Homo sapiens: one gene and its partner. The protein of the gene in region 2 purifies or fractionates together with the protein of the main gene of each other region. This does not show direct contact. Each region holds a gene or a part of one and is shown on either strand. Other genes may lie near its edges.

Region 1 (4,750 bases), on a different chromosome or scaffold from region 2:
AGCCACTGATAGCAAAATCATCATATTCACAATGCAATGAGGAGAGGTGACCTAATTTGTGCCTGTGAAAGCCAATGCCACAAATTAGAGTTGGCCTATGCTGACGTCTATGTTGAACCCAATGCTCTGTCTACTTAAATGATAGCTGCCAGCTTCACTGGGGGCTAATAACAGTGTTTACGGAACCAGGCAAAGCAGAAAATTGAGTTTGTGTTTACTTTTCCCCCCAATATGCTTTAGTATGCCAAAATGCCTTAATAACAGCTGGGTGGTTGAAGCAAAGCAGGCCTCCCAAATAACAAGGGCATTTTCAGAATCAATGTGGGCCGAGCCTGTGAGGTCCAAGGAGAGGCCTTCATCTCAGATATGTAACTGATCTGTACTTGACCTGTGAATTTATCCCCATGTTCTTTAAGCAGCTCACACCCTTCCCCACATTCCATTCAATATCACCAGACTAGATTGTACCGTATGTGAACGATTTAGGAAAAAAACCTGAAACCAAGAAAGTTGAAACAAATAACTCACAACAGGGGAAAAAAGGAAGAAAAGAATTAAAACTGGGGCAAGAAGTACTCACTCAATGTCTGCCATTTTGGTCAATAAATGTATTCGAACTGAAGATGGAAAGTCAACTGAGGGAAAAACAAAATCAAATGAGTTAGGTCACTCTCTACTGTCAAAAAACCCACAGAGGACAAATGAGTTTCAACATGAAATCCTTAACACTGAACTAGTCCTGAGGCCTCAGCCTGCTCACTAGATACCAGACCTCTAAGAAAGTAGAAACAGTGCTGGTTTCATACTTTTTACCCACTCGATTTTGTGCTTTATAGGGTAGACAAAAAGGAAAATGAGCAGATACCAAAGTGATCCTAAGAGCACCAAAGATCACACTGCTCTTAGCAGCTGGGTAGCTCTACAAGTTAACTTGAATGCTGAGTTCCCACTTGCTGTTTTTATTTTATATTTTACTTTATTTTGAGACGGGGTCTCACTGTCTTGCCCAGGCTGGAGTGCCATGGCATGGCGTGATCATGACTCACTGCAGCCTTGACCTCTTGGGCTTGAGGGATCTTCCACCTCAAGACCCTTGAGTAACTGGGGCTACAGGTGTGCGCCACCTTGCCTGGCTGTTTTGTACTTTTTGTAGAGATGCGGTTTCACCGTGTTGCCCAGGCTGGTCTCAAACTCCTGGGCTCAAGTGATCCACCCATTTTGACTTCCCAAAGTGTTGGGATTACAGGCGTCAGCCACTATACCGATCCTGTCCCCATTTAAAAACCAAGCACAAACAACTGATTTTTTAAAGTTGGTTTATGCTCAGCTTCCACAATCAAGGTGCAGAGCTGGGCCTGAGCCAACCATACCTTGGGCAGAAGGCATGGCATGGGCCAGCCAGGAAGAGGCCTGTGAAGGCCTGGGCAGAACCAACATTCATTGACCCGGTTAAGTCTCCATCTTGCAGTTGGCCACTGTGGAAGGAAGAGCTTCTCCGAAAGCCTACACAAGTCACCTGGGGAGCTTAGAGAATACGGATGCCTGGTTGTCCTCCGAGAAGCTGACTTAATTTGTCTGGAGTGCCCCTATCTGCTGCCAAGGTTGAGAACCAATTCTCTGTGTAGAAGGTACAGGCAAGTGTGGAACTTAAGATGTTTTCCTTAAGCCTGCTTTGGTTTACATGGTTTACATATCTTCTCTTTCTTTTCTGGGAATATATATCTAGATAGACAGATAGATAGACAGACTTTTTTTTTTTTTTTAGAAATGTGAATTAATATATACTACTTACTGCTATAAAATATAAACCCCTAGAGGAAATAAAGTTAGCCTCCAGGAGTTTTCACTTTCCCCAGCAGTTCTAGATATTAAAAGAGGGTTTATGGAACACGTTTTTTGTGTTTTGTTTTGTTTTTTTTTTTGAGACAAACTCTAGCTCTGTCGCCCAGGCTGGAGTGCAGTGGCAAATCTTGGCTCACTGCAACCTCCACCTCCCAGGTTCAAATGATTCTCCCACCTCAGCCTCCCACGTAGCTGGGATTACAGGCGTGCGCCACCATGCCAGGCTAATTTTTTGTATTTTTAGTAGAGACGGGGTTTCACCATGTTGCCCAGGCTGGTCTTCAACTCCTGACCTCAGGTGATCTGCCTGCTTTGGCCTCCCAAAGTGCTAGGATTACAGGCTTGAGCCACCGTACCCAGCTCTGGAACAAAATTTTAAACAGTGGCAAGACAGAACTGCTAACAAGAAGGGTCTGATTTACAATTCATTAGTTTCTTTGCTTCAAGAATGAAGCCTCCTGTCCTAACCATCCTTAACCCCAAAGCAGGCTACCTTCTCCACAGCTTCTCAGCTGGGGGATAATGTAAGTTACCTCTATGCACAAACAAGTGTATCTCTGTCAGGATATCATGCAGTGCCAACCCCTTCAGAGTTTTCAACTCTGTAATATCTAGAGGAGCAGTTAAGGCAAAGGGAACAAGTTCCAGAACAAACATACTGCAGAGAATTTTGAATCCAAACCCGGGCAAGAGACTTTTTAAAGTAAGGCTTTTAATCCCAACACAACTGTTTCTCTTTCAACTTGAAGCTGCACGTGTTGGACTCCAATTCTTTATTTTTCTTTGTTTCATCTTCAGTAAGGGCTTTCTGAAAGATAGAGTTGTAACTCCTTCTAGTAGAGAATAAAGCCAACTGCGTTTTCTTTTTCTTTCTTTCTTTTTTTTTTTTTTTAAGATGGAATCTCCCTCTGTCACCCAGGCTAGAGTACAGTGGCATGACCTCGGCTCACTGCAACCTCTGCCTCCCGGGTTCAAGCAATTCTCATGCCTCAGCCTCCCGAGTAGCTGGAACTACAGGCACCCACCACCACGCCCGGCTAATTTTTGTATTTTTAGTAGAGACGGGGTTTCGCCATGTTGGCCAGGCTGGTCTTGAACTCCTGACCTCAAGTGATCTACCGCCTCAGCCTCCAAAAGTGCTGGGATTATAGGCATGAGCCACCACACCCAGCCCCAAATGCATTTCCAAAAAGGCTTTGTGTCACCATTCCTAGCCTTTCATTTCACAGCACAAGAGCTATCACTATCATGACCACTTGAAAATTCCTGCATCTTCAATGCCAAGGCCTAAGCTTTTCTCCCATCTGTGAGTGAAGCTGCTTCAAGCCTTACCCTGACTTGAAGGTCAGAGCCCTCCAAGAAGAACTCTGGAGTGCTAAAGACAAGTACCCACTCCACCTACAGACATCTCACTCCCACAACAAGCTGACCAGAGTCGCCTGCAGCCAGTCATCCTTTGCCAGCAAGGTGTGGGTGCTGGCTGCAACCTGAACTCCTGGGGCCACCTTCAGGTCTCGGTGGCCAGGAGGTCATGAGAAAGGATACTTCTGTAGGCTGTGGTGAAATCTTGATTCAACATCCAGTCCAGGATGTTGGCAATGTCTGACTTGAGCGGGTGCCCGGTGCAGGTGTAGACAGTCTCCTCTGTCACCTTCCCAAAGGCCATATTGGTGCTCTGTGTAGACAGAGGGGGAAAGGGGAGATCACAGTGGCTGTCACAGCTGCCACCAAGCTGCAGGGAGCCAAGAAGAAATTGCCAAGGCAGCAATGCAGGTGAGCAGCAAAGTTCTATGGGCACAAGGCAGTGGGAACCCACATATTCAATACCGGAAGAGTCACCTCATCAGAGGATGCCACAGCCTGTTGGCTATTCCAGTGCCAAATCCTTCCCTCCCTTTGCCTTCTTTGCAACAAATGATTCCTTTTGTTTTTAAAACATTTTCTTTTGCTCTCTCTTTGTTTTTTGAGACAGGGTCTTGCTCTGTTGCTCAGGCTGAAGTGCAGTGGCATGATCATGGCTCACTGTAGCCTCGACCTCCTAGGCTCAAGTCACCCTCCTGCCTCAGCCTCCTGAGTAGATGGGACTACAGGTGTGCACCGCCACACCTGGCTCATGATTTTTTAGTGGAGACAGAGTCTCACTATGTTGCCCAGGCTGGTCTCCAGCTCGTGGGCTCAGGCAATCCACCTCCCTCGGCATCCCTAAGTGCTGGGATTACAGGCGTGAGCCACCATACCTGGCCTGCAACAAGTGATTTTTTCAATTAATCAAAATACAAAGTGAGGAGGGGGAATCCTGCAGGTTATGAGACCAAGGTCTTACCAGCTGTAGATTTCAAAATTTACAGATTGATCATGCCTTTGCTTAGGTCTTTCTTCAAAAACTATTACAAAACAATGACTCAGGATTTGCTGGGACCAGGCTGGGCATGGTGGCTCATGCCTGTAATCCCAGCACTTTAGGAAGCTGAGGCAGATGGATCATTTGAGGTCAGGAGTTCGAGACCAGCCTAACCAACATGGCGAAACCCCATCTCTACTAAAAATACAAAAATTAGTAGGGCGTGGTGGCGGGCACCTGTAATCCCAGCTGCTCAGGAGGCAGGAGATTCGCTTGAACCCAGGAGGCGGAGGTTGCAGTGAGCTGAGATTGTGTTGCTGCACTCCAGCCTGAGCGACAGAGCAAGACTCTGTCTCAAAAAAAAAAAAAAAAAAGGATTTGCTTGAGACCATACCTGCAAAATGTTCAGAGCCCTACGCATGTCTCCACTGGAAAGAGTGACTAGTGCTTTCATTCCATCTTCACTTATATCAACTCTGAAAGAAATAAGCAAAAGGGATTTATGAGGCCCCCTGAGAGCACCAGCATTCACCAAAGGAACAAGATGGCCTGGAATGATTAAGGCTT
Region 2 (5,234 bases):
GCGCTAGAAAGTTACTTTTTCAGTCAGACTCAGAATTTATTAATACATAAATATGACAGTGTTTTTGAGCCCTGACTTACCTAGCGGTTTACCCGCAGCATCACCTTATCCTATAAAAGCCTTGTGTTTTTCAACATTAAAAAACAGGCAACAGAAAAGGTGCAAAATGCCAAAGAAAATTCTTACTCAGGCTGGGCACCGTGGCTCACACTTGGGAAGCCAAGGTAGGAGAACCGCTGGGGCCCAGGAGTTCAAGACTAGCCTGGGCAACATAGTGGGACCCCATCCCTATAAAAAATTAAAAAATCAGCTGGGCATGGTGGTGCATGCCTATAGCCCCAGCAACTCGGTAGGGCTGAAGTGGGAGGATCTCTTGAGCCCAGGGGGTCAAGGCTACAGTAACCATGGTCACTCCACTGAACTCCAGTTTGGGGAACAGAGGAAGACCCTGTCCAAAAAAAAAGAAAGACAGGGAGGGAGGAAGGAAGGAGGGAAGGAGAAAGAGAAAAAGAGGGGGAAAAGGGGAGAGGAGGGGAGGAGGAAAATCTTATGTGGAAATTCCCTTTTTCTCATGTTTGGCTACAATGCACCATTGGGGTGGAAAGATGCTGGCTATAAAGGCTAATTCCTAACAGGTTTATTGAAATAGCAACTGTTATGCCGGTTCATGTCTCCTGTCTTGTCCTCAGTATTTAGCGGTTCAAAAACCAGGTAGGTACGCCTACTGAAGGCCCATCCATCAGATTGTCCAGCCCATGAGAAATGCCATAATAGGAATCATTATACCTTAAGTTTCTATGGTCAGCATATTTTCTCCTAGTTGATACATCTATTCTGAAAGCCAATCAGAAGGTAGTTTAGGAAGTATGAGGGGAAAAAGCAAATTAGAGTAACTGAATGTTTAAGGTGCCAGGCTATGTTAACCTACTGTTACAGGTTACAAGTCTACAGATAGACTTGAATTTTCTCTGTTGGTTGGCTGAAATTCTCTCTCCATACACTGTAGAGTGTATAGACAAACAAGGTGGCCATTGCCAACATTTGCCCCTATGACTCTTTTTTCTATGCTTCTAAGACTGACTTGCCCATTTTCTAATGAACATATTCATTATTTACATTAATTCAGATTGCATCACATTTTGCCATTAAGGGAGACACACTTTTCGTTCATATCCTAGAATGTTAAAAAACAAGAAACAGCCCAGAAATCTCTCTCTCTTGTTTACCTGGCCTTAACTGGAATATATATTGTAATACATCTTAACACTGCTTGTAGATTCTCAGTTACATTTATTTTGCTCCCTACATGAATACTTTAAAAAAAATATGAATACTTAAAAAAAAGCAAGATATAATTCACATGCCATAAAATTTACCCTATAAAGTAGACAATTCAGTGGTAATTAGTATATTCACAATATTGTATAACCATCACCACTAATTCCAGAATATTTTCATAATTTCAAAAAGAAACCCTGTACCCAGTAGCAGTCACTCCCCATTCTTCCATAACCCTAGCTGCTGGCAACCATTGATCTACTTTTGGTCTTCATGAATTTACCTATTCTGGAAATTTCACACGTAGATGCTCCGTGACTTACAATGGGGCTACATCTCAATAAACCCATCGTAAATTGAAAATGTTGTAAGTTGAAAGTGCATTTAGTACACCTAACCCACTGAACATCATAGCTTAGCCTACCTAGCCTACCTTGAACATACTCAGAATACTAACATTAGCCTACAGTTGGGCAAAATAATCTAACACAAGGCCTATTTTATAATTAAGTGTTGACTATTTCATGTTATTTATTGAATACTACACTAAAAGTGACAAACAGAATAATTTATGGGTGCTCAAAGTATAATTTCTACTGAATCACTTTCGCATACTCATAAAGTCAAAAAATGTAAGTCAGGGATATCTGAACAAAATCATACAATATGTGGTCTTTTGAATCTGGCTTTATTTACTTAGAATAATGTTTTCAAGATTCATTCCTGTTGTAACATATACAGTACTTCACTCTTTTTATGACTAAATAATATTCCACTGTTTAGATATACCGTATTTTGTTTATTCATTTATTAGTTGATGGACATTTAGGTTGTTTCCACTTTTTGGCTATTATGAATAATGCAACTACAAACATTTGTATGCAAATTCTTGTTTGAACAGTTTTCGATTATCTTGGGCATACAGCTAAGGAGTAGAACTGCTGGGTCACATGGTTATTAAAATAATTTTTTTAAATAATTTTATTTTTATGTTTGCAAACAGTCACTAAGTACTCTCTATTGTACATATACAGAAGGATACTCGAGTGGGAAATATGATAATTAACCCAATTTGCTTCTCGAAATATAAACAGAATGTACCAACAATTACTTCTACGAAGGAAGGTAAAAAGGAGAATAGAAAAAAAATAGGTAAAGAAAATTTGCTTTAACAAAAATTCTTTGGGTTTCTGAAATATTCATTCTCTCTTCCTTGGCCCTAAAGAAATATCACTTTTGCCTCCCATTTCTAGTCCCCTCATCTCAGTTCTGCTTCAGATGCAAATTGATTGTTCAGTTTAAATTATATAGTCAGTATATTAAAACAAGAAAAACTAAGATCAGGAGAACCACATTACAGAAAATGTGGTGTTACTCTGACGTTATGCATGATTGAAGAATGCCCAATGAGATTACAGACTGCCTAGCATAATTTAGAAAAGTCTTTGGATTTTTGGCTGGACGTGGTGGCTCATGCCTGTAATCCCAGCACTTTGGGAGGCCGAGGCAGGTGGATCACCTGAGGTTGGGAGTTTGAGACCAGCCTGACCAACATGGAGAAACCCCATCTCTACTAAAAATACAAATAATTAGCCAGGTGTGGTGGTGCATGCCTGTAATCCCAGCTACTCGGGAGGGTGAGGCAAGAGAATCGCTTGAACCTGGGAGGCGGAGGTTGCAGTGAGCCGAGATCGTGCCACTGTACTCCAGACTGGGCAACAAGAGCAAAACTCTTGTCTCAAAAAAAAAAAAGCAAGAAAAGAAAGAGAAGTCTTTAGATTTTCAATGTGATGAAGTGATGTATCAATGAAGTCTTACATAATATAAACTGTATAGACAGACACTTGTTATTTTTGGCTTAAAAACAAATTCTGGTTTAACAACAAAGCTGTGTAATTTAATTGTAGTTTTATTCCTAGAAAGCTATCTTTAATTTGATAGTGTTTCTTACTGTAAATAGCATCTTAGAATGGAAGAATAAAACACTATATGCCCCATTGCTTCTAGAGTAACCTGAGCAATACATAATGAAGGCCAAATCTCCTTTGCTTTTACCCTTCCATGGCTTGCCACAGATCTAAGAATAAGGTACCAAATCTGGACTGGACTATAGGGCCTTTTGTGACTGGCTTCCTGTTCTATCAAGACTTCTGCGCACTTTTTCACATACAGTGCTCCCTTTGTCTCAGTGCTCTCCTCTTCACTCTGCTCCTCAAAAATGCCCACACTAAGAAGCAATGCAGTGGTTAAGAATACAGACTCAGGCCAGGCATGGTGGCTCATGCTTGTAATCCCAGAACTGGGGAGGCTGAGGTGGGCGGATCACCTGAGGTCAAGAGTTCGAAACCAGGCTGGCCAACATCGTGAAACCCTGTCTCTACTAAAAATACAAAAATTAGCCGGGTGTGGTGGCACACGCCTGTAATCCCAGCTACTCGGGAGGCTGAGGCAGGAGAATCGCTTGAACCTGGGAGGCAGAGGTTGCAGTGAACCGAGATTGCACCTGTGCACTCCGGCTTGGGAAACAGAGTGAGACTCCATCTCAAAAAAACAAAGAATACAGACTCAAGCTAGAATGCTTAGGTTTGAGTCACAACTCTGTCACTTACTAGCTGTGTGACTTTGGCTAAGTTGTAACCTCTCAGATTTCTCATCTATAAAATAACAACAGAACCTATCACACAGGGTAATAAGAAAACTAGAAGAATTCATAGCTTATACCTGTAATCCCAGTACTTTGGGAGGCTGAAGCAGAAGGATCACTTGAGGCTAGGAGTTCAAGACCAGCCTGAGCAACACAGAGACCCCACCTCTACAAAAAAAAAAAAAAATTTAAATAGCTGAGTGTGGTGGCACATGCCTGTAGTCCCAGCTACCCAGGAGGCTGAGGTGGGAGGATCGCTTGAGCCCAGAAGTTAGAGACTGCAGTGAGCTATGATTGTTGTGCAACTGCATTCCAGCCTGGGCAACAGAGTGAGACCCTGTCTCAAAAAAAAAAAAAGAATTCATACATGTAAAGTTTCTGAAAATATTACTCGGCATACAGCAAGCGCTATTTAAACATTAATTCTGGCCGGGCACCATGGCTCATGCCTGCAATCCCAGCACTTTGGGAGGCCAAGGTGGGCAGATCACCTGAGGCCAGGAGTTCAAGACCAGCCTGAGCAACATGGCAAAACTCTGTCTCTACCAAAAATACAAAAATTAGCTGGGCATGGTGGCACATGCCTGTAATCCCAGCTACTTGGGAGGCTGAGGCAGGAGGATTGCTTGAACCCAGGAGGCAGAGGTTGCAGTGAGACAAGATTGCATCACTGGACTCCAGCCTGGACAACAGAGCAAGACTCTGTCTCAAAAACAAAAACAACATACCTTGAGTGAGGCATGCATCACACATAAAAGTTTCCATTAAGCTCCCATACAATAATGCTTAATATATACATACACATGTATCTGTAGGCATGCATACACCATCTGGTAAATATTTGACTATATAGCTGTCTGCCATACAGCCCTGAGTTTTTTAAAGGAGGGAAAAACTATATTCTTTTTGGTTTCCCAAGATCCTAGCAAATGCCTACTGATGTTTTGTTCAGTAGTAACATAATTTGTAACTTACTTTTTCAGAGAATTGAAAAAATAAGCTAAATTCACCTGAAACTGATAGGGTCACTTAGGCAGACAGGATTGTATTACTTAAACTCAGTATGGAAAGGTATCTGAAAATAATGGCAGCCTAAAACTATTTCCTAAATAGCATTTCGACAACATTAACTAAAGTCCCCCTTAATAATCCTTTTGCAAACTTATTAATAGGAAACATTGGCCAGACACGATGGCTCACATCTATAATCCCAACACTTTGGGAGGCCAGAGGAGGAGGATCACTTGAGCTTGGGAGTTTAATACCAGCCCGGGTAACAGAGTGAGACTCCATCTCTAATTTTTAAAAAAGG

Evidence for each region. Proteins that work in one complex are often made in the same cells at the same time.
Region 1: the proteins of MCM9 (region 2) and RFC5 purify together in Homo sapiens (affinity purification with mass spectrometry; 2 studies listed by BioGRID and IntAct, with this or other methods). This does not show direct contact.

Annotation. Positions count from the first base shown.
Region 1 is NC_000012.12:118,025,656-118,030,405, reverse strand, and holds part of RFC5 (replication factor C subunit 5), read right to left. Parts: intron 4,660-4,750; coding exon 4,578-4,659; intron 3,518-4,577; coding exon 3,388-3,517; intron 2,454-3,387; coding exon 2,376-2,453; intron 636-2,375; coding exon 581-635; intron 1-580. UniProt on the Homo sapiens protein: Subunit of the replication factor C (RFC) complex which acts during elongation of primed DNA templates by DNA polymerases delta and epsilon, and is necessary for ATP-dependent loading of proliferating cell nuclear antigen (PCNA) onto primed DNA.
Region 2 is NC_000006.12:118,924,589-118,929,822, forward strand, and holds part of MCM9 (DNA helicase MCM9), read right to left. Parts: intron 4,091-5,234; coding exon of another isoform or gene 4,000-4,090; intron 1-3,999. UniProt on the Homo sapiens protein: Component of the MCM8-MCM9 complex, a complex involved in the repair of double-stranded DNA breaks (DBSs) and DNA interstrand cross-links (ICLs) by homologous recombination (HR).